Linked DNA regions of Homo sapiens: regions 1 and 2 are each linked to region 3. Evidence: fine-mapped expression QTL. A gene starts in region 3. Each other region holds a variant in brackets. All regions are shown on one strand. Distances are between the middles of the regions. Region 1 overlaps RAB3IP (RAB3A interacting protein). Region 2 overlaps RAB3IP (RAB3A interacting protein). Region 3 holds the start of RAB3IP (RAB3A interacting protein).

Region 1 (8,026 bases), 57 kb after region 3:
CAAAATGATATGTATATTTCAGTGTTCATAAATATTTATTAAAACAGCCACACTAATTTGTGTATTGTCTATGGCTGCTTTCATATTGCAACAGCAGAGCTGAGGAGTTGCAGCTGAGGCTGTATATGTATACATAGTGTTTGACTCTTTACAGAAAAAGTTTACCGACTCCTGGTATAGGTGATACTTACATCATTTTCAGCTTTGGAAGGGCAGTGTGATGGAAAATTTTCAAACTTTTTTTGAGTCTACCTTTTGATGTTTTTTGTCAATTTTTAAAAAATTCTGTAAAAATTCTGCATGTCATCTTTTTAGCAACTGATCCTGCCCCAGTCTAGTGCTCATCTTTCCTTTTGGGGCTCCAATTATATGTATGTTATACCTTTTCACTGTAACCCTTATGTCTGTAGTGGAAAAGTCACCTAAAATTTCACATTACTCTAAGTTTACTTCACTATTTTGTTCTCAGATACCTTCAAACATATTTTAAAAACAAACAAAAAACTTTTCTAGCTTTTCTAATCGTTCTCCGTTGGAGGTTTGGTACAAATTGCATAATCCACTATTAATGAAAACAGAGTCCATTTCCAAAAATTTAGTCAACTATTCTCTCCATAGTATGAATTACTTTTTCATTTAAAGTTAAAATGTTACTTATCTTGAAGGGTCAGATTAGCTGTGTTTATTATTTTTAAAACATTGCCAGATAGTTTTGTGTTGACAGCCACTTGTCCCAGAAAAATTCAGCAAATCTGAAACATTTGTTATTTTTAAAAGGAGAATATTTAACTCATTAAATTTGACAGCTCTTAAGGACTTTGCCAAGATAGCCAGAATAATAGTGCATGGAATATCTTCATGGTTAATATCATTTTGCTATAAATCATTGATAGTAAAGATTCTCCTATTTAAACTAGTATAAGCTGCAAATTCACATTCATGGGCACACACAAACTGCAGTGTTACAATACTGTAAAAGCTAATGAACAAACGGGAAACAAACAGTCAAACTCTGATGTAAAGAACTTCCACCTTTCCATTCTACCACTGTGCATTTTGACAGATCTAGTGAGGGTGCCATTGTCAAACTATTCATTAAATATCTTTGAAGCTCATTTCCTTCCTTCCTCTGATAAATTGTAAACTAAAGTTCTAAAATGTAAGTTCTTAAATCTCGGGGCACTATCTCAAGCACCCTATATATGCTTCCAGTCCATTCTTAATCCCTTACAGGGATTATTCTATACAAGGGCATAATCTTTTAAAAATAAAATGATCATGTCTTCCTTAAAAAAACTGTAAGGCTTCATATTGCATTTAGAATAAAACCCACAATTCTTATTCCGATGTTTTATTTGGTTAATACATATAAACAGAATGTAAGCTCCTTAAGAGCAGGGACTTTGTCCTTTCCCAGTACGTAATCAGCATCTGGAGCAGTACCTCACAAGGAGATGACATGAGTAAATGTCTCATGAATAAACATTATATGAATAAAAAGGAATTAAATACCTAGAGTTTCATATTTGTGGTACTAGAAGATTAAAACTCTATTAAAGGGTAAACTGATTTGCCTTTTTAGGTTGCTCTTCACAAAATTGTCACATAATAAAATTTTGGGAATGTTTTTATTGAAAGCTCTAAGGCTTCTTAGCTGTCATTACTATAAACTGCAACATTATTGGTGTGTTAATGTTTTTACTTGTCCCTCCTGTATGTCTTTGCTTTGACTAATAAGAACATATATAGTGACCACATTATAAAAAGCTGACTGCAAAGGAGTTGGCTTTGACACATTGGTCATTGTTTGCCTTCGTCACATTCACAGTCCTTACGCAAGTATCTATCCGGATGATTGATCTCAACTTGGCTGCCTCAGTGGTAATAGGTCCTAAAAGAAGGCACCTATTCCTAATGTCTCATAGTTTGTCTCTGTTGTCAACTGCTGCTTCCATAGTTGACATTGAATACTTAACTTCAGGCTAACTTTTGGTAGTATATCTTTGCTTCAATTGTAAACATTTGGCAAGAACTTTTTGAAAACAAATGCTACTTTGTTTCTAAAATTTGAGATGTTAACTTTTTCAGGAAGCTCATAAAATGGTGAGAGAAGCAAATATCAAGCAGGCAACAGCAGAAAAACAGCTAAAAGAAGCACAAGGAAAAGTGAGTTTTTGCAGCTCTTAATAGTATAAAATAAATTTGTGATAACTGTTTTAAAGATACCTTAACATCTGTTGGATTTTGTTCTGATCGTAAAGTAGTGCTTGTTTTCAATTTGGAAACTACAGAAAAATAGAAGAAAATAGCTACTATGTAGGTATAATTAATAGTAAACATTTCGTGTCCATTTATATGAGAACCAAATGATTTAAAACCTTGTAAATCACATGAATTATCCAAAGGATTATAGAATCACATTTTAATGTTAATACTTAGTTTTTAAATTCACTGAGAAAAGCCACCTAAATGTTATTAGATTTTACTGTTTTAGGAGTGAACTTCTACAACTAATCATAAGCTATTATATTTTGAGGATTTTGAAAATTCACATAAATGTTAGATATTTTGGTAATTTTCACAGGCTCATTTGACGTTGTTAATAATAGATGAATCCAAACCATATGGAAACATCAAAAAACTTGATTTTAGTTTCTTTTTATTACTCCACAGGAAATACAAATTAAACTTACTTTTCATCTTTGAAAGTGTTTTGACCAGATTGCTAATATTTAGCTGCATATGTCATGAAACGTATTTAATGTATGTGACTATGTTGATTTCTTTCCAAGATTGATGTACTTCAAGCTGAAGTAGCTGCATTGAAGACACTTGTATTGTCCAGTTCTCCAACATCACCTACGCAGGAGCCTTTGCCAGGTGGAAAGACACCTTTTAAAAAGGGGCATACAAGAAATAAAAGCACAAGCAGTGCTATGAGTGGCAGTCATCAGGACCTCAGTGTGATACAGCCAATTGTAAAAGACTGCAAAGAGGTAACTCATCAAGGACTGTCCCCTCTGACTCTGTTGATACTTGTTAGTTCTCATCACTGAGGTGTCAGTTATCATTTTTGCCAGCAAAATTTTTAGTACAAAATAATGCAGTATTAAGATGGGGGAGGCTTTATCTAGAGCTGGCTGCTTTCAGGGATTCTTCAGTTCCATTTTCTACCTGGCTGACCTTGGAGTACCTGCTGGAAACTTGGTAAGTTTCTTAATCTCAGTATTTCATTAAGGGAGGAAACTGTCATGTGTTGTCTAGAGGAGAGTGGGTGGCTTTAATGATCTGGCTAGTCAAAATTTATTGCTAGAGTGCGCTTACAAAGTATGGATATAAGAAATATGTGAAAATAAGATGATTTTCTTAAAGATCAATACATTGCTTTTATTTAAATTCAGAGAGAATTTTATGTCAGCAAGGGAGTCCTAGAGTTAATTTAGATAATTAAGCAACAAAAAAATAGAAATAATGGTAGCCTTACAATGACATAAGGCTGGAAGACATTTTGCTAAGTGAAATTTCAAGTTATAGTAGAACAATTAGTGTCATTTTTGATCCCAAATTAGGTTTCACAGTTCAGCCAGTCTGTTATTCAGACACTTACAACTATGTAAGGCCACCATTATCATGTATCCATAACAATTAAAAATTTAAAAACGAAATAATGGGCCGGGCATGGTGGCTCATGCCTGTAATCTCAGCACTTTGGGAGGCCAAGGCCGGAGGATCACCTGAGGTTGGGAGTTCGAGACCAGCCTGACCAACATGGAGAAACCCTATCTGTACTAAAAATATAAAATTAGCTGGGCATGGTATCTCATGCTTATAATCCCAGCTACTCAGGAGGCTGAGGCAGGAGAATCCCTTGAACCTGGGAGGCGGAGGTTGCGGTCAGCTGAGATTGCGCCATCACACTCCAGCCTGGGCAACAAGAGCGAAACTCTGTCTCAAAATCATAATAATAATAATAGTCTTATTTTAAAAGATATGTTACAAAGATAACTGAAATAATATATAAATATTTTGAGCTGTTTAGAGTAAAAATTTTTAATCATTGTATACTGTGAGAATGCATTTCTAAGAGGATTGATCAATAATTTATGAAGCTTTCCCATTTCTTCTTAGAAGCCATCTTTTACATTGTTAAATTCAAGTCCATCATTAATCTTGAAGAAATGTGTGTGCTTGTTAAATTTTTGTATGGAAGCCAGGAGTTTATTAAATGGAATAACCAATGTTAACCTGTTTTAATTGAATTGCATTTTGACGAATTATCAATAAAAATGATGCTGGTAAGAGAGAAGTTCAATACTTGGTTAAATCTGAATGTAACCAAATCCAAAATTCACATTGGTTTCTGTTAAATATTTAAGAAACTTCTTTGTCCTAACTTTAATTCTAATTCTTTGGAATTTAAATAGCAATTTTAATTGCCTGGTACAACTTGTATTTTTGGTGTTTCTTACTCAGTATGTGTAAGTAATTATGTACTTTCCCCCCTATTTACACTAACAAAATTATAAGTGTCTTCTCATGGAACATGGTAAAGATTCATTTTTAGTTTTTGAAATCCCTTAAAATGTGCATAGGCAGCATATAACTTCAAAATAATAACCTTTGCTCTTCAGGTACGTGTTATAGTCTGATGTTTCATGAAAAACTTGTCAAAAAGTCTTACTAGGCAAAGGAATTACATAAATTTGACCTGTGTAAGTCTTAGAAAAATATGTAACAATCTGGAAGAAAATTAAGCATGTC[C/T]GTGTTTTTGTAGAAAATATGATGGGGCACTCAGTTATGACATTAGCAACATGTCTTCTGTAAACATTTAAAATACACATGCATGCATGCAGACATACATGCCCAGTGCAAGGCTTTGGGATCAAGCCACTTAGATTTGAATTCGGACTTTACTGCTTTCTTGCTATGCAATCTCCGGCAAATTACAAATGGCAATCATAATATCTGTCTTGCACAGTTGTGAGGATTAAATGCTTGTAAAGTGCTTACGGTGGTTCCTGGCAGAGTCAGCTCTTAATAAATGGTTTAAATTACAGCCTTTAAACTAGAATCTTTCCTTAGAATACCACTTACCTGCTTTGGGGTTTATGTCCTTTTTCTTTTCTTTCTTTTTTTTTTTTTTTTTTTTTTTAATAAATTTGCATCTTTCTTTTTTTTTTAATTATTGTTATACTTTAAGTTTTAGGGTACATGTGCACAATGTGCAGGTTAGTTACAGATGTATACATGTGCCATGCTGGTGCCCTGCACCCACTAACTCGTCATCTAGCATTAGGTATATCTCCCAATGCTATCCCTACCCCATCCCCCCACCCCACAACAGTCCCCAGAGTGTGATGTTCCCCTTCCTGTGTCCATGTGTTCTCCTTGTTCAATTCCCACCTATGAGTGAGAATATATGGTGTTTGGTTTTTTGTTCTTGCGATAGTTTACTGAGAATGATGATTTCCAGTTTCATCCATGTCCCTACAAAGGACATGAACTCATCATTTTTTATGGCTACATAGTATTCCATGGTGTATATGTGCCACATTTTCTTAATCCAGTCTATCATTGTTGGACATTTGGGTTGGTTCCACGTCTTTGCTATTGTGAATAATGCCGCAATAAACATACGTGTGCGTGTGTCTTTATAGCAGCATGATTTATAGTCCTTTGGGTATATACCCAGTAATGGGATGGCTGGGTCAAATGGTATTTCTAGTTCTAGGTCCCTGAGGAATCACCACACTGACTTCCACAATGGTTGAACTAGTTTACAGTCCCACCAACAGTGTAAAAGTGTTCCTATTCCTCTACATCCTCTCCAGCACCTGTTGTTTCCTGACTTTTTAATGATTGCCATTGTAACTGGTGTGAGATGGTATCTCATTGTGGTTTTGATTTGCATTTCTCTGATGGCCAGTGATGGTGAGCATTTTTTCATGTGTTTTTTGGCTGCATAAATGTCTTCGTTTGAGAAGTGTCTGTTCATGTCCTTCGCCCACTTTTTGATGGGGTTGTTTGTTTTTTTCTTGTAAATTTGTTTGAGTTCATTGTAGATTCTGGATATTAGCCCTTTGTCAGATGAGTAGGTTGCGAAAATTTTCTCCCATTTTGTAGGTTGCCTGTTCACTCTGATGGTAGTTTCTTTTGCTGTGCAGAGGCTCTTTAGTTTAATTAGATCCCATTTGTCAATTTTGTCTTTTGTTGCCATTGCTTTTGGTGTTTTAGACATGAAGTCCTTGCCCATGCCTATGTCCTGAATGGTATTGCATAGGTTTTCTTCTAGGGTTTTTATGGTTTTAGGTCTAACATTTAAGTCTTTAATCCATCTTGAATTGATTTTTGTATAAGGTATAAGGAAGGGATCCAATTTCAGCTTTCTACATAGGGCTAGCCAGTTTTCCCAGCACCATTTATTAAATAGGGAATAAATTTGCATCTTTCTTAAGAAAGAGTAACAGACTTAGGTCATTAGTGTGTGCTCATATAAATCAATATATGTTGGGAACAAATACATTTGAGAAGTTAATATTAAACAGACTGTTAAATTGGAGATGTGACATCTCTTATTAGAGCCAGGAGGTAAGTGAATTAGGAACAAAGATTAAAGAGTCTTATTTAGAAGATAAATGGAATTGAGGAAGTGTCCTTTTTCTCAGTAACTTTACAAAGAAAATGCATTTGAAAATGTAAGTATTGCTTATATGCTAATATTATTTATCCTGTTGCTTTTGCTTTGATTCAAGGAATTTATGAATTGGGCTGAAAAAAATATTCACATGGAGATTGCCCTTATACACCTTAAAAGGAAGTCTGTAGGAAGGCTTGGCTACACTCAGCTCTATGTTACATTTTTGTAGACTACTTGCACATCTGATTGAGCTATCCTAGAGGCAGTCTGTAGCTGTAGTCAGTGCATCATTTATGGTGTATCCAGTGCCTCTGGAGAAGAGCAGCTTAGAGCTGTAGGATGGGGGAGACTGCTCTAGTTTGGGTGGCTGATGTCAGTGCAACTTTGTATTCCAGCAGATGCTATTGAGCTGGACTGAGGGAATCTGAGAATCTGTAGGGAAGAATACTTGGGGAAAATTTATTAGGGAGGTGAGAAAGAGAGGGATAGCTGGAGGAGTGAATAGGAAGGCAGGTGCCAGCAGTGGATTATTATTGATGCCTAAGATGGTAGTTACTGGGTGCCAAAAATATGTCAAAAATATCTAAATAAATGTTGTATTTTAAGGTAGTTTAGAAGGCTTTACGTATTCTTTTTTTTTAATCCTGTTGGTTATGCAATAACATTTTGACAATTCTTTTTGGAATGCCTTCAAGTTATAGTAGAACAATTAGTGTCATTTTTGATCCCAAACTAGGTTTCACAGTTCAGCCAGTCTCAGTTTATTCAGACACTATAATTAATTAGGTTCCAAATTACCTTTTTATTGTTTTCAGAAAAGACTTGTCATCATTTATTATATTCTGAATAGTGTGCCACCTGTGTCTTAAGAGGAACTCCAGCATTTTTGGTGGGGATGGGAGAAGGAGCTCAGAGTGAGGATAATAGTAGTGTTATTGAACATGGTAGTGAATGATGCTTGGAAAAAGGCTAATTGGTTATTTGAGAGTCATTTTTTAAAAAGGAAAACTGCTACCAGGTATTATGCTACCAGGTATTATTTGAGAGTATTTTTTAAAAAGGAAAACTGCTACCAGGTATTGAACCACCAAGAGTGGTTCAATTTATTATTTTAAATGAAGAGCTTTTTTTCAGTGATGTTTAAATTAGTTTTGGTTTTGTAAAGCGGTTTTTATGTTTATACGTTTTAAAACATGTTTTTGTGTTTTCCTTTGGTTTGTTAGGCTGACTTATCCTTGTATAATGAATTCCGATTGTGGAAGGATGAGCCCACAATGGACAGGACGTGTCCTTTCTTAGACAAAATCTACCAGGAAGATATCTTTCCATGTTTAACATTCTCAAAAAGTGAGGTAATTTTTTTTCATTTTAGTAGGAATTCATTATAGT
Region 2 (8,026 bases), 70 kb after region 3:
TTGATGTGTTGCTGGATTCGGTTTGCCAGTATTTTATTGAGGATTTTTGCATCAATGTTCATCAAGGATATTGGTCTAAAATTCTCTTTTTTTGTTATGTCTCTGCCCGGCTTTGGTATCAGGATGATGCTGGCCTCATAAAATGTGTTAGGGAGGATTCCCTCTTTTTCTATTTATTGGAATAGTTTCAGAAGGAATGGTACCAGCTCCTCCTTGTGCCTCTGGTAGAATTCGGCTGTGAATCCATCTGGTCTGGACTTTTTTTGGTTGGTAAGCTATTAATTATTGCCTCAATTTCAGATCCTGTTATTGGTCTATTCAGAGATTCAACTTCTTCCTGGTTTAGTCTTGGGAGAGTGTATGTGTCGAGGAATTTATCCATTTCTTCTAGATTTTCTAGTTTATTTGCATAGAGGTGTTTATAGTATTCTCTGATGGTAGTTTGTATTTCTGTGGGAGCAGTGGTGATATCCCCTTTATCATTTTTTATTGCACCTATTTGATTCTTCTCTCTTTTCTTCTTTATTAGTCTTGCTAGCGGTCTATCAGTTTTGTTGATCTTTTCAAAAAACCAGCTCCTGGATTCATTGATTTTTTTGAAGGGTTTTTTGCGTCTCTATTTCCTTCAGTTCTGCTCTGATCTTAGTTATTTCTTGCCTTCTGCTAGCTTTTGAATGTGTTTGCTCTTGCTTCTCTAGTTTTTTTTTTTTTTTTTTTTTTAGTATTTATTGATCATTCTTGGGTGTTTCTTGGAGGGGGTATGTGGCAGTGTCATAGGATAATAGTGGAGAGATGGTCAGCAGATAAACACGTGAACAAAGGTCTCTGGTTTTCCTAGACAGAGGTCCCTGTGGCCTTCCGCAGTGTTTGTGTCCCTGGGTACTTGAGATTAGGGAGTGGTGATGACTCTTAATGAGCATGCAGCCTTTAAGCATCTGTTTAACAAAGCACATCTTGCACTGCCCTTAATCCATTTAACCCTGAGTTGACACAGCACATGTTTCAGAGAGCACGGGGTTGGGGGTAAGGTTATAGATTAACAGCATCCCAAGGCAGAAGAATTTTTCTTAGTCCAGAACAAAATGGAGTCTCCTATGTCTACTTCTTTCTAGACAGACACAGTAACAATCTGATCTCTCTTTCTTTTCCCCACATTTCCCCCTTTTCTTTTCAACAAAACCGCCATCGTCATCATGGCCTGTTCTCGACGGTCGCTGTCTCTTCGGAGCTGTTGGGTACACCTCCCAGACGGGGCGGCCGGGCAGAGGTGCTCCTCACTTCCCAGACGGGGTGGCCGGGCAGAGGAGCTCCTCACATCCCAGACAGTGGGCGGCCAGGCAGAGGCTCTCCTCACCTCTCAGACGGGGCAGCCGTGCAGAGGCGCTCCTCACCTCCCAGACGGGGCAGCCGGGCAGAGGCGCTCCTCACCTCCCAGACGGGGCGGCCGGGCAGAGGCGCTCTTCACCTCCCAGACAGGGCGGCAGGGCAGAGGCGCTTCCCACCTCCCTGACGGGGCGGCCGGGAAGAGGCGCCCCTCACCTCCCAGACGGGGCGGCCGGGCGGAGGCGCTCCTCACATCCCAGACAGGACGGCTGGGCAGAGGCGCTCCTCACTTCCCAGACGACGGGCGGCCGGGCAGAGGCACTCCTCACCTCCCAGACAGGGTGGCTGGGCAGAGACGCTCCTCACCTCTCAGACAGGGCGGCCGGACAGAGGCGCTCGCTTCCTAGATGGGGCGGCCGGGCAGAGGCGCTCCTTACCTCCCAGACGAAGGGTGGCCGGGCAGAGGTGCTCCTCACATCCCAGACGATGGGCGGCCGGGCAGAGGCGCTCCTCACTTCCTAGATGGGGCGGCCGGGCAGAGGTGCTCACTTCCCAGATGGGGCGGCTGGGCAGAGGCGCTCCTCACCTCCCAGATGATGGGCAGCCAGGCAGAGGCGCTCCTCACCTCCCAGACGGGGCGGCCGTGCGGAGGCGCTCCTCACCTCCCAGACGGGGCGGCCGGGCGGAGACGCTCCTCACCTCCCAGATGGGGCGGCCGGGCGGAGGCGCTCCTCACCTCCCAGACGGGTTGGCCAGGCAGATCTCTAGTTCTTTCAATTGTGATGTTAGGGTGTCAATTTTAGATCTTTCCTGCTTTCTCTTGTGGGCATTTAGTGCTATAAATTTCCCTCTACACACTGCTTTGAATGCGTCCCAGAGATTCTGGTATGTTGTGTCTTTGTTCTCGTTGGTTTCAAAGAACATCTTTATTTCTGCCTTCATTTTGTTATGTACCCAGTAGTCATTCAGGAGCAGGTAGTTCAGTTTCCATGTAGTTGAGCAGTTGTGAGTGAGTTTCTTAATCCTGAGTTCTAGTTTGATTGCACTGTGGTCTGAGAGACAGTTTGTTATAATTTCTGTTCTTTTACATTTGCTGAGGTGTGCTTTACTTCCAACTATGTGGTCAACTTTGGAATAGGTGTGGTGTGGTGCTGAAAAGAATGTATATTCTGTTGATTTGGGGTGGAGAGTTCTGTAGATGTCTATTAGGTCTGCTTGGTGCAGAGCTGAGTTCAATTCCTGGATATCTTTGTTAACTTTCTGTCTCGTTGATCTGTGTTGACACAGTGGGGTTGTTGACAGTGGGGTGTTAAAGTCTCCCATTATTATTGTTTGGGAGTCTAAGTCTCTTTGTAGGTCACTAAGGACTTGCTTTATGAATCTGGGTGCTCCTGTATTGGGTGCATATATATTTAGGATAGTTAGTTCTTCTTGTTGAATTGATCCCTTTACCATTATGTAATGGTCTTGTCTCTTTTGATCTTTGTTGGTTTAAAGTCTGTTTTATCCGAGACTAGGATTACAACCCCTGCCTTTTTTTGTTTTCCATTTGCTTGGTAGATCTTCCTCCATCCCTTTATTTTGAGCCTATGTGTGTTTCTGCACATGAGATGGGTTTCCTGAATACAGCATACTGATGGGTCTTGACTCTTTATCCAATTTGCCAGTCTGTGTCTTTTAATTGGAGCATTTAGCCCATTTACATTTAAGGTTAATATTGTTATGTGTGAATTTGATCCTGTCATTATGATGTTAGCTGGTTATTTTGCTCATTAGTTGATGCAGTTTCTTCCTAGCCTTGATGGTCTTTACAATTTGGCATGTTTTTGCAGTGGCTGGTACCGGTTGTTCCTTTCCATGTTTAGTGCTTCCTTCAGGAGCTCTTTTAGGGCAGGCCTGGTGGTGACAAAATCTCTCAGCATTTGCTTGTCTGTAAAGTATTTTATTTCTCCTTCACTTATGAAGCTTAGTTTGGCTGGATATGAAATTCTGGGTTGAAAATTATTTTCTTTAAGAATGTTGAATATTGGCCCTCACTCTCTTCTGGCTTCTAGAGTTTCTGCCGAGAGATCAGCTGTTAGTCTGATGGGCTTCCCTTTGTGGGTAACCCGACCTTTCTCTCTGGCTGCCCTTAACATTTTTTCCTTTATTTCAACTTTGGTGAATCTGACAATTATGTGTCTTGGAGTTGCTCTGCTCGAGGAGTATCTTTGTAGCATTCTCTGTATTTCCTGAATTTGAATGTTGGCCTGCCTTGCTAGATTGGGGAAGTTCTCCTGGATAATATCCTGCAGAGTGTTTTCCAACTTGGTTCCATTCTCCCCGTCACTTTCAGGTACACCAATCAGACGTAAATTTGGTCTTTTCACATAGTCCCATATTTCTTGCAGGCTTTGTTCATTTCTTTTTATTCTTTTTTCTCTAAACTTCTCTTCACGCTTCATTTCATTCATTTTGTCTTCCATCACTGATACCCTTTCTTCCAGTTGATTGCATCGGTTACTGAGGCTTGTGCATTCGTCACGTAGTTCTCATGCCATGGTTTTCAGCTCCATCAGGTCCTTTAAGGACTTCTCTGCATGGGTTATTCTAGTTATCCATTCGTCTAATTTTTTTCAAGGTTTTTAACTTCTTTGCCATTGGTTCGAACTTCCTCCTTTAGCTCAGAGAGTTTGATCTTCTGAAGCCTTTCTCTCTCAACTCGTCAAAGTCATTCTCCATCCAGCTTTGTTCCGTTGCTGGTGAGGAGCTGCGTTCCTTTGGAGGAGGAGAGGCGCTCTGATTTTTAGAGTTTCCGGTTTTTCTGCTCTGTTTTTTCCCCATCTTTGTGGTTTTATCTACCTTTGTTCTTTGATGATGGTGACGTACAGATGGGTTTTTGGTGCAGATGTCCTTTCTGTTTGTTAGTTTTCCTTCTAACAGTCAGGACCCTCAGCTGCAGGTCTGTTGGAGTTTACTGGAGGTCCACTCCGGACCCTGTTTGCCTAGGTATCAGCAGTGGTGGCTGCAGAACAGCAGATAGTGCTGAACCGCAAATGCTGCTGCCTGATCGTTCCTCTGGAAGTTTTGTCTCAGAGGAGTACCCGGCAGTGTGAGGTGTCAGTCCGCCCCTACTGGGGGGTGCCTCCCAGTTAGGCTACTCGGGGGTCAGGGAGCCACTTGAGGAGGCAGTCTGCCTGTTCTCAGATCTCAAGCTGCGTGCTGGGAGAACCACTGCTCTCTTCAAAGCTTAGCTGGAAATGCAGAAATCACCCGTCTTCTGTGTGGCTCACGCTGGGAGCTGTAGACTGGAGCTGTTCCTATTCGGCCATCTTGGCTCCACCCTCCAGAAATAAAAACTGGTTTAGGTTTTTGAAGCATAAGGGTAATTTGGATAAAGAGCAATACATAACAACTGAAGGCCTAGAAACAAATCAAAGTGCGTT[C/G]AAAGGATGGTCAGTGTATGGAGAGGAAAGGGAAGATGTGACATTTTAAGAAAGAAAAGTTAGATTGGGGTGGGGGGATGGGTAAAGGAGAAAGGAGTTAGAGATATCTGACTGGAAGACTGATTTGAAGTGATTGTGGAAATTAATGGAAAAGGCTTTGATTTGTGGAAGAGGATTACGGTCTAGATTTAGACATATTGACATCCTCACATGAAAATGGGAAACAAGGATTTGAAATCTTGGGACTAGAGTTATAGAGATTTATTAATGTAGTGTAGCATGTTTGGGAAAAAAATGGAGTTGGAGGTCAGAGGTCTGTTTGCATTGAATCCTGGCTTAACTAAAAATACATTAGGTGTGTCCAGTTTACAAAATAGCTTAGAAATGAGATCTTTTAAGAAACGCTATACACCATGGAATACTATACAGCCATAAAAAAGAATGAGATCATGTCCTTTGCAGGGACATGGCTGGAGCTGGAGGCCGTTATCCTTAGCAACCTAATGTAGGAGCAGAAAACCACATGCTGCCTGTTCTCCCTTATAAGTGGGAGCTAAATGATGAGAACACATGGACACATAGAAGGGAACAACACACACTGCCGCTTGTGGAAGGGTGGAGGATGGGAAGAGGGAGAAGATCAGGAAGAATAATGGATACTTATTCTTCCTGAATCACCCAGGGTGATGAAATAATATATACAACAAACCCGCATGACACATGTTTACCTATGTAATAAACCTGCACACCCTGCAGTTGTACTCCTGAACTTACAAGTTAAAAAAAAGAAACACTTATTATTTTAAAAGTTGATACTTAAAGCCACCTTACCAGATCCCTTTCAAAATTAGGCTAAACAGTAGACCAGCAGGCATATGTCTGTTTCCAGAAGAATAGTGTATAAATTGGTTTTTAGCAGCTTAATGGCACATTTTCCTCTTATGCAAATTATACTTTTGGAAGTTCCACAGACTTCCAACACTTTGTGCTTTAAATTTCTGTATCTTCTATCCTCCCCAAGCTAGTAGTTAGTGCTTTTAAATATTGTTACAGATCATTAAAGGAATTTGCTAATAAAGAAACAATGAAGAAATATCTATTTGAAAAAAGACAGGAATTGATTTGTGATTTGAATTGCCCCCTCCTCAAAAATTATCCTGTTTCAAATACACATTGTTGTGTGTTTTCTTAATACAAAGGCACTTTTGTATTATATTTCTTGTATCGCTAAAATGTAATGTTATTTAATATATTTACTATATAATTTATACTGTCATATAAAATGCTGTTTGCCACTTACTTAGAGCTATGCTAATTTTGCATTGATGGGGAGTGATAGTTGTATTGAGCCAGGTTCCTAGCTTAGGGTGACAGCTGGGCTGCTGCAAGTCCGGCCTGATAGACATGCTAGCTTTATCTCATGGAGCCATAGGGTAACAGATGGCTCATTACTTATTCAGCAGTCATTGAATGTGTGCTGTGTGCCAGGCATTTAAAGATGAATCAAAGTCCCTGCCCTCAAGAGGTTGATAGCCTAATCCCAGCCAGAAAGCCCTCATATAAAATTTTAGCTTTTGTCATATGCAAATAGAAAGGATCATGTGAAATTCAGTGAACTTGTTACATGATTGTTAAGATTCAGTATTTTTATAAGGTGGCTTATTCCTTTGTACTTCTCCCTAGGTCCCACATTAAATGCATATAGAGCAACCAACCAACCAAATAAACAAATACCCCATCTGGAAACTATTACCCTGCAAGCTATCAATAACATGCTTTGAGACTTGAACAGTCATCATGAGGATATTTTCAGCTGAGAAGCTGAAATCCTGATGGAAAGCTGAGAGCTGTCCTGCAGCTGATTACTGATTTGTAAATTTGTTCCAAGATGGGACATACATGGAAAACACCTAGTTTCTGTTTCTAGAATCATGGTTAATGTTATGGCATTAAACTTATACTACTAATAGAATGTAAGTCTCACAAGGGCAGAGACTTTGTCCTTTTCATCACTTTAGCCCAGCATCTAGAACGGTGCCTGGTACACAGTAGGTTCTCAAATATTTGTTATCTAACTGAATGAATAGGCAACTTGTACAGAAGGTAGGGGCAAATGCTTTTCATTTCAAAAAACTGAAATTTATCATTATTTCACAGAAAATGTGCTCTCACTGGCCAGAGTAAGTCCTGTAAACACAGAATTAAATTAGGGGACTCAAGCAACTATTATTATATTTCTCCTTTTTGCAGATACAGGGTAAGTGACTTAACCATGAATTTTAATAAAGCTTGCTTTGATATGGGACATTTGACCATTCATGACATTTTCTCCATTTGGCCTAGATCACTTCTGTATGTAACTTTTTTACATACATTCGATACATTCAGCAGGGACTCGTGAAACAGCAGGATGGTGAGTGTTCTTGATTCAATATAAGTCTTTACATAAAAGTTCAGCAAAAAGTATAAGTAAAGTTCAACAAAAAGTATAGAATAGTAGTAATGCTCATATCAGCTTTATTGTTGGTACATTTATATTGAATCCCTTCTATAGTTCTAATAAAATTTGTGGAGAATTTGGGAACAAATGTCTTTTAGAAAAATATTGTGTTTAATTATTTTATTTGCCTCATTTTACTCTTAATTTTGAATTTTAAGCAGGGTCAGTTTTAACTCATAAGGGGTATATGATAAACCAGATGGTAAATGAGAAGAGAGTTCTAAGCTCATTGAATTGACTCTTTAAGAGATGAAAATGAGTAGGCCAGCAAAGTGGTCAGATTTATTTTAATTGATGGAAACCATCATGGAGCTCAAAATTAAGTTTTCCCTGTATTTTCTACTTTTTGCGTGTGAATTAATAAAGCAGTCATGAGGATAATTCTGAATGGAATAAAGATTGCCATATTCTAAATCAGCAGAAATGTGCAGGTGATATATCCAGGAGAACCAACCTCATGAAAGTGTGTTAATATTTTTAATACAATTTTATAGCTAAATATCTTAAATATCAGGCATGAAAACTAATATGGCCTGACAGCTCCAAAGCAGTATCTCTCGAGCACAAATGATAGTTTAAAAAAAAAAATAGCAGATACTAGGCTAGGGACAAGTCTGTGCCAGTTAGTATTTAAAGTTTTACAAAATTTCCCTGTTTATATTTTTTAGGCACTGAAAATATTATCTTGCTTAAACACTGGTAGAAGCCTACCATCTTTCAATCATGTAAAGCAGTGAATCTTAATTCTATGGAGAAGTTAGTCACGCTGATAAAAACT
Region 3 (8,026 bases):
TGCTTTGGGTTTGAGAATCAGCCAGAGCCTCTAGTCTGCCATACTACTGGACACAAAAGTTCAATATGTTTTCACTTCATTCGTTTATAAGATATTAACCTGCATTCCAAACACCAGGGCCCTAACTCTGGTGGCCTAAGCTCCCCATCCACAAAAATGAAGAATAACTACCTTTCCACCTGCATCAAATTGTTTTTTGTACAAGACTCATGTAATCATTAACATGAAGTCAGTTTGCAACTGGAAAATACCATGAAAATACATTTTCTTAACTCTGAAAACAAAACAGAGGCAAACAAGTAATAAAAGTTATAACTAAGGGTAACAACCTTAGAATGGTTTGTTCAATTTACAATGTCTATATATTTGCACTCATCTGCTTTTTTTCTGGCCCAAGGTATAAATGAGAAAGTCTTAAGATAAAAAAAAAGCAATATTATTTTATACGTTATATTTGACACTAATTGTATAATTTACATTTTTAAAAAATAAAGAGAAAAAAATAAAGAGAAAAAGGCAACCTTGAGCACACTATAAAATCTTTCACTCTTTTTTTTTTTTTTTTGAGATGGAGTCTCACTCTTGTCACCCAGGCTGGAGTGCAATGGCGCGATCGGCTCACTGCAACCTCTGCCTCCCGAGTTCAAGTGATTCAAGGTTCAAGTGATTCTCCTGCCTCAGCCTCCCGAGTAGCTGGGATTACAGGTGCCAGCCACCATGCCCGACTAATTTTTTATGTTTTTGGTAGAAATGGGGTTTCACCATGTTGGCCAGACTAGTCTTGAACTCCTGACCTCAGGTGATCTGCCCACCTCAGCCTCCCAAAGTGCTGTGATTACAGGTGTGAGCCACCGCGTGCGGCCTTTTGTTTTGTTCTTTTGAGACAGGGTGTCACTCTGTCGCCCAGGCTGGAGTGCAGTGGCGTGATTTCGGCTCACTGCAGCCTCCGCCTCCCGGGTTCAAGTGATTCTCCCACCTCAGCCTTCCAAGTAGCTGGGACTACAGGTGTGTGCCACCATGCACAGCTGATTTTTTTTTTTTTTTTTGGTAGAGATGGGGATTCACCACGTTGGCCAGGCTGGTCTCGAACTCCTTACCTCAAGGATCTGCCCACCTTGGCTTCCCAAAGTGCTGGGATTACAGGCATGAGCCACCGTGCCCATCCAAATCTTTCACATTTTTAAATTTTGTGAAATAGCTGTCCTTTTTATATATGGGTAAGCTATCAAACTTAAGATGCTCACAGCCCTTTACATACTTTGTAGGCTGAGATTCTGAGTGTCTAATATTCTGTAATGTATCTTGGTCTCTGTGCTGCAAGAACACTGAAGTATTATTATAGGTAACAATCTATATCACTCTTCTCAAACAGCGCTAACAGGTTAAGTATTCAAGAGGAACATCTTTCAGTATATTTCAAAAAGCCTCATGGATGGTAGGTGATTTGTAAATGGACCAACGCAGGACTCAGGCATATATGGTTACTGCTTACTATTTCCTATAGATCATGATGTCTTAGGTCTTATGTAGAATATATCATAGGACTTGTCCTCTAAACATTCACATACCAAGACTGCACTCTGCATGCATGCCATTCACTCATTCTGCATTTACTGAGTCAGTCCTACTGCATGTCAGACCTTGTGCCTGTTCTCAAGAAGCTCGCAGTCCAGGAAAATGGAGAAATACAGATACAATTATAACTCTATGTGATAAGTGTTACAAAGAGATACGGTGTTATGGAAGCCCTGGTAGGGGCACTTAGCCCATACTGGAGTGGCTGGGATAGGGCTGAGTGGCCAACAATAGGGAAGGGTTCACAGTGGAATTGATGTCTAGGCTAAATAATGAATAACAAATAATTAGCAAGGCAAGGAAAAGGTAGGAGATCAAGACATAAAAATAAACAGCATATGGAAATACAGGGTTGTATGTGAGTACGGCAAGACTGGGGAGCCTAAGTGGTTTGCTGTATATTTAATTTATTCATTTCACGTAGCTACTATTGACATACTTGTCTCCCTATATATGTTTGAGTCCGTGGATGGTGGGGACTTTGTAATGGTTTCTCTGTCCCTATGTCTAACAGGAGGCACACAGATGGAGTGCAATAAAATGTCTGATGAATAAATGACCAGCTATGAGGTGTAAGGGAGAATAGGAATCCATTAATGAGAAAGGTCATTTCTAGTGGCAATGAATATCAGATAAGATAGATTTAAGAATTATTTAGAAATTAGGATGAATAAGACTTGGTGATATATTGGCGATGGGGTATAAAATAAGAAACACTGGCTTTCTAGGTTTCTGGATTACAGATGCATGATAATAGTTATAATGGTATAATAACAATAGCTAATATTTATTAGGCACTCTGTGTCATGAAGTACGCAAAGTGTTTACATGAATTAAGCCATTTAAACTCTTAATGACTCAGTGAGGCAGGTTCTGTATACTCATTCACTGATGAGAAAATTGGGGCTAGAGAGATTCATTTGCCTAAGGTCACTCAGCTAGCAGGTGGCAGGCTCAAGCCCAGTAATTCTGACTCCAACAACCATACATATAGTCTACTTTTCTTTACTGCCTCTAATAGATGAGATTAATACCCAGAATGATGGTCCTATTCAATAAGTGTATCACACAAATGCACGTTTCTCTTTTGCTAAACATAGAGACACATACTATGACTACCTCTATTATTATTATTTTTTTTTGATTTTTGGGATCTTGGCTCTTTCTGTATTTTTCCTACCTGGAAGACCTAAAGTGGGGTAGAAGTTTGATAAAACAGTTGGCACAAAAGATGAGAGAAGACAGGTACAGACATGACATTCTCGAACGCTCTGGCAGTTGCTGGAATGATGGGATCTGGGTTCTACAGGATTCCTCCCCTCCCATCTCCCGCCACACACACACACGTCGTAAGGTGTATATGGCCGCGGAGTCTCAGGTTGGTTCTAGGAGTCCTCAACCCACGGCAAAGGTGCCTCTTCTCCCTCCTGGAGAGCCCAACATGCTTGAAGTTAACCTGAGGCCGCCTCTCGGGCCCGGCGAAACAGAGCGCGGGCCCGACGAAACAGAGCGCGGGCCCGACGAAACAGAGCGCAGCTCCGGCTCGCGCTGGTTCCCAGGGAAACCGCCCGCGGAGGAACCTCGGGCCAGGGCCGTGACACCTGCGACGAGCCCCGCCTGGCGCCAGGGGGCGCGGAAGCGCGTCCGCCCCCAGGCCCCATGCCGGGCTCGCCCCGCCCCTGCCGGCCACACCCCCCTACCCCGCCCTCCCTCCGTGAGGACCGGCCGCTCCCGGCTCCCGGCCCCCGGCCCCGCTTCCGGCGCAGGCGCAGTCCCGCGTTCCCTCGGCGGCTGCCGGCGTAGTGAGCCCGCCGCCGTGGAGTGTAGCGGAAAGGGCTCGCCGTCCTCCTCCGTTTCTCGCTGCTTCGGGACGCGCTCTCTGCGGCTCTGTGAGCGCCCCTGAGCGCCGGCAGCGGCCGCGGTGGGTTCTTCAGGTGAGTGCGGCCGCGGGAGGGAGAGGCCCGGAGCGTAGAGCACCGCCCCCCTCGGCGCCCGCGCGCCCGCCTCTGGCGAGTCGGCCAGGAGGGGCGGCCGCGGCAGGTGCAGGTGCTGGCGCCGTGCAGGGCGCGGCACGCGGGGGTTCGGGGGGATGCCCAGGCCCGGTGAGCTCGCTCTCCGCCTGGGCACTTGGGCTCCGGGCCCTTGGGGGCGGCGTGTGGGGGGGACTTTGGCGACCCGGGTCAGCCGGCCGCCCCCTGGGCTGCTGGTGGGCGTCGGGCGGCGGCTCCTCCCCCGGGCACGGGCGCGTTACACATTAACTGCGCGGTCCCGCGCGCCCGGGGCAGGGAGCCCGAGTCCAGCGGGTTACCTGGCGGCGGGCGGGCGCGGCCGGGAGCGGAGGGCCGCGGTCGCGAAGAGGATGAAGAGAGAGTTCCCGAACAAGTCGGAAGCAGCTCACAACACCGGACGCCGCGCGGCAGGGCTGTGGACCTGGGGTGGTTTCGTGTCCCAGTCTTAGGAAACTACGCGCGAGGCACCGTGCTGAGGCGTAGAGGTCACCCTCGGGAGGTTTCGGTGAAACCTGGTGGGAAATTCCGGGCAGGCGCCCGGAGTCGCGCCCAAGTAGGCAGCTCCGTGCCGCCAGACTTGTGTTCGGGGGAGTTGAGACGAACTGCACGGGTGGGATTGCATGGCTCTGCCCTCCCAGCGTTGACAACTCGCCCCGACCGCCCAGGAAGCGCGAGCTTACTGGCTCCAGAAGTGATGATGCTGGGTGGAAGTCGCAGCATGTGAAGAGTTGCCGGTTGTTATGGGATTAAAAAAGATGAAAGGGTAAGGTCTTGAAAGACACGAGCGCTGAGTTAGTTAGTACTGATTACTGAGAGGCAATTTAGTTTCATGGAAATGTTGCCTGTTCGGAGGCTACCTGTTATACACTCTCCTGTTTCACCCCAACTCCTTCCGTTCAGTGTCGGGTTAAAAGCCTTGTAATCTCTTGCAGTGGAATGATTGCATAATTGGAGGAGGGGCCCATAAGAGGATTACAACAAAACTGTTCCATTGTAAATCAGTTGAAAGACCCAGTTCTTGTTCATTATCCTTTTTCTCATTTTGTTGTTCATGAAGGTTTTTTTTTCTTCCAGTGCTGAATGACAAATCAAGGAGAAAAGAGGCAGAATAGGGTTGTAGACCAATCGTAGTAAATATTTGATACTGTTAAATATTTCACCAGTTTTATGGGGCCTTGTTCTGTTATCATTTGTTATTTATTTACTAGTACTGTGCATTTTGATAGGACTTTTCATGTTTGGACAGACAGTGTATTCCAGATGCGGCTTATGTGATCTAATCCTAAAGCCCTTGTGGAATTTATAGAAATAAACAGTTATACAATTAAGTAGTCCATTTTTTAACTATTAAATGAAAAGCCATTGCATTTTTTTCCATTACAGTAATGTTACATATTAATGTATACCTTTGTGAACCAAAGTGTTTGATACAACTCTTCCTTCTGTGTTTGGTAAACAACTCATCTGTGGTACTGAATACTTGTAATCTTTCACCAGGATGGCCATTTAATGTTTAGCTGCTTTGTGGGATTTCTGAATAGATCCTATTGTACTTTTTGAATTAGTGCAGTTATCCATATGTTTCCTTTAATATTCTTTACCTTTGATTTTGTCTAAACTCTCATCCTCCCCCAACACACACATCCTCTACAAATAATTTTTAAAATGGAAAGGTTCTTAGAAATGTTTCACCCCCTCATTTTTTAAATATGGCACGAAAAAATACTTTGTAGATTACAGTAGTTTTATATGCATTATAGTAGTTACTATACTTTTTTCCTCCTCAACAGGAGTCAGTGAACAAATTAGTGAGCTGGCTGAATGAAAAATTATTTAATGTTCAGCTCCATCACTTACTGTGCATAAAACCTTGAGTAAAACATTTAACCTGTTTGAGCTTATTTTCTCCATTTGTCAGTGGAAATACTATTAGGTTGAAATTGCTAATATTCTGCTGTTTTTTATGTTTCAACCTAATATGAACTTCATAATGGTAAGATGAGGATTTAATAACATACTCCATTAGAGATGTGGGGAAGGGGAGAAGGAACCAGTGTGAGCTTGATTGTGTGCAAGGCACTGTGTGTGCTTGTTTTCGATACCTTGACTCCTCAGTCCTCTGGACATTCCCGGGATATAGGTGGTTTATCAAATTTTACAAGTCAGGAAATGGAGGCTTAGAAAGTTGCGATAATTTGTCTATGGTTACTTAGTTGTAGGTGGTCGTACAGCTGGCCAGTGACAGAGCCGGTATTAAAAACTGTATCCGACTGCCCAAAATGGAACGTAGTGCTTTTGTTTCTTACATTCCTGGTCTGCACCTTCTATTAAAGAGCTTTGTAACTATAAGGAGGCACACAGATGACAAGTGTTACCATTTGTATTTCTGGTTTAAAAATATCCAAGTTTTCTGAAGACGGTGATACCAGCATTGCTACTACAGTTACTTTTAAGTCTAGTGCTTATCAAGCGAAGTCCTGGTGTAAGCTTTATACTCATTTACTCTCAGAGTGAGCGAGGAGATAATACTTTATCCCTATTTTGTAGTTGAGAAAATTGAGACCCTGAGACCTTATGTAGTTTGCTCAACGTCACATAGTTAATTAAGTGACAGGTCTAGATTAGATGTCAGACAGTTTGTCTTCCATGTCTGTGCTCTTAACCACTACACTCTGTCATTTCTTCATGTATAAGTGGTAATGCTAAAGAATTGTTTGCTCATAATCACTACATTATCACTTCTTTATGTGTAGCTTATAATGCTGAAGAACTTTGTAATTTAGCTTTTATGAGATACGTAATGTTAATGTAATATGTAATTCTCATTGTGTCACCAGAGATTTTTTTAAATCAAATACTCATTGAGCATCTACTCTGCAAGTCACAGTAGGGGTTAAAGGAAACTGTTCTTAAGGAATATGGAAGGTAGGGCCTTATAATCATTCCCATATCTTTTATAAGTTCTTCAAAATGTAGAACGCACTTTACATATTTTAATGAATGTCAACTAAGACAAAGTGCTAGGATAGTTGAGTAGTGGAGAGGAAGGACAGATGGATAGTGGGTAGAGATATTTGTGCATTGAGGTAATGAGGGAAAGCTTTGAAGATATTCCAAGGGAGTACGCTTTTTCACACTAAACTTTTTTCCGATATAATTCTGATTAAGATGCAGTTCATCAAAGGATAGTAAATTGGTTACTACGCATTTGATATCCTAAAAACAAAATATCTGAGCTTTTGTAAACTGCTTTCTAGCTTGTTTCTCCTTTTTTATGCTACTATCCTTAGTTGTACCAGATGGTACTCTTTTTAAAAATTTTATGCTTTTATAATACTGAGTACCTCTTTTTTGGTATTTATGAACTTTGATATTTGTGTTGTATTTGTAATTGTTTCTAGGGCCCTAGAAACATGTTTATTGGCAAGGTGGTCTCTTCCTCTAGTCTACAAGTGCTTCGAGAGTAGGGCTTACCTCATTTTATAGCTTTAACATCGGGCCAGGTAAGTACTGTGCTGTGTTTGGTGATGGATGATCAGTTGAAGAATGTTAGGATGTTTTGAAGCTGCTCTAGCAGTAGAAATTGAAATGAACATTGAGAAATGAAGGGACAAAGGAAGGAAGAGGAAGATATTTATACAACTGGGAGCATTAACTTGCTATCTCTATTTTCCCTTCTGCTTTCCTTTTCAACTTACCACTAAATGAGGTAGTTTTATAAGCTTACATCGTACATAGTCATGGTTAGAGAAAAGTGGAAAAAGTAATCTGATTTATCTTAGAATATAGGGCAACACGAAATTAGATAACTATAGCCGTAAACTGATATTACTTAGAGGAAAAAGAATGAAAATTATTCAAATAGTTCAAGTTCATGAAAGATTTGATGCTTGTCGTTAACAGTAGGATTGTAAATATAATCATAATGGCAGTTGATGAAATTCCTCTGAGGGGTATGGATACATACACAAATAAGTATATGAATTGACAGCTTAGTATGAAGAAACTATTCAAGAATGTGAGAATGCCCTATGAGCATAAAGGAGCATATAGATGATAGCTTAGAACCACTTAAATAAGTGAATTGTAATTTGATATGCCCAGATAAAAGTAATAGTATTGAATATTTGTTTGGGAGCATCTGGTTGTCAGATAAGGATAAAGTATAAAAGAAAAACCAAAATAAGTTTGAAAAAACAATAAGCAAATTTGTATCAATTCCCTGTGGGGAAAAGAATCATATTTGAACTACATGCCTCATAAAGACTAGTTTTCCCTTTCTTTCCTTTTACCTAAGATAAATAAAGATACCTTCTGATTTGTAAGACAAACCCCTCAGTATGCTTTTGCTATTTCCCCCATTACATTTTTTTCTTTCTTAGATCTTTATAAAATCATACATTTATGTTGTGCTTTACAATGTATACATTTTTACATTGATA

The links.
Region 1: its variant is fine-mapped to the expression of RAB3IP in unexposed skin (GTEx, PIP above 0.99).
Region 2: its variant is fine-mapped to the expression of RAB3IP in whole blood (TOPMed, PIP above 0.99).

Annotation. Positions count from the first base shown.
Region 1 is chr12:69,792,349-69,800,374 of GRCh38, forward strand. It overlaps RAB3IP (RAB3A interacting protein), which reads left to right. Exons shown (of 11, transcript NM_022456.5): 5 at 2,089-2,166; 6 at 2,793-2,996; 7 at 7,861-7,989. Among named protein-coding and RNA genes, the nearest start is that of MYRFL, 29 kb to the right of the region's middle. The variant C/T (reference allele first, on the strand shown) is at 4,762.
Region 2 is chr12:69,805,873-69,813,898 of GRCh38, forward strand. RAB3IP (RAB3A interacting protein) reads left to right here. Exons shown (of 11, transcript NM_022456.5): 9 at 6,906-7,005; 10 at 7,092-7,161. Among named protein-coding and RNA genes, the nearest start is that of MYRFL, 15 kb to the right of the region's middle. The variant C/G (reference allele first, on the strand shown) is at 4,749.
Region 3 is chr12:69,735,523-69,743,548 of GRCh38, forward strand. RAB3IP (RAB3A interacting protein) reads left to right here and starts at 3,338. Exons shown (of 11, transcript NM_022456.5): 1 at 3,338-3,509. LOC101928002 (a long non-coding RNA gene) reads right to left here and starts at 3,028. Exons shown (of 4, transcript NR_110072.2): 1 at 2,756-3,028. RefSeq lists a silencer at 3,086-3,915.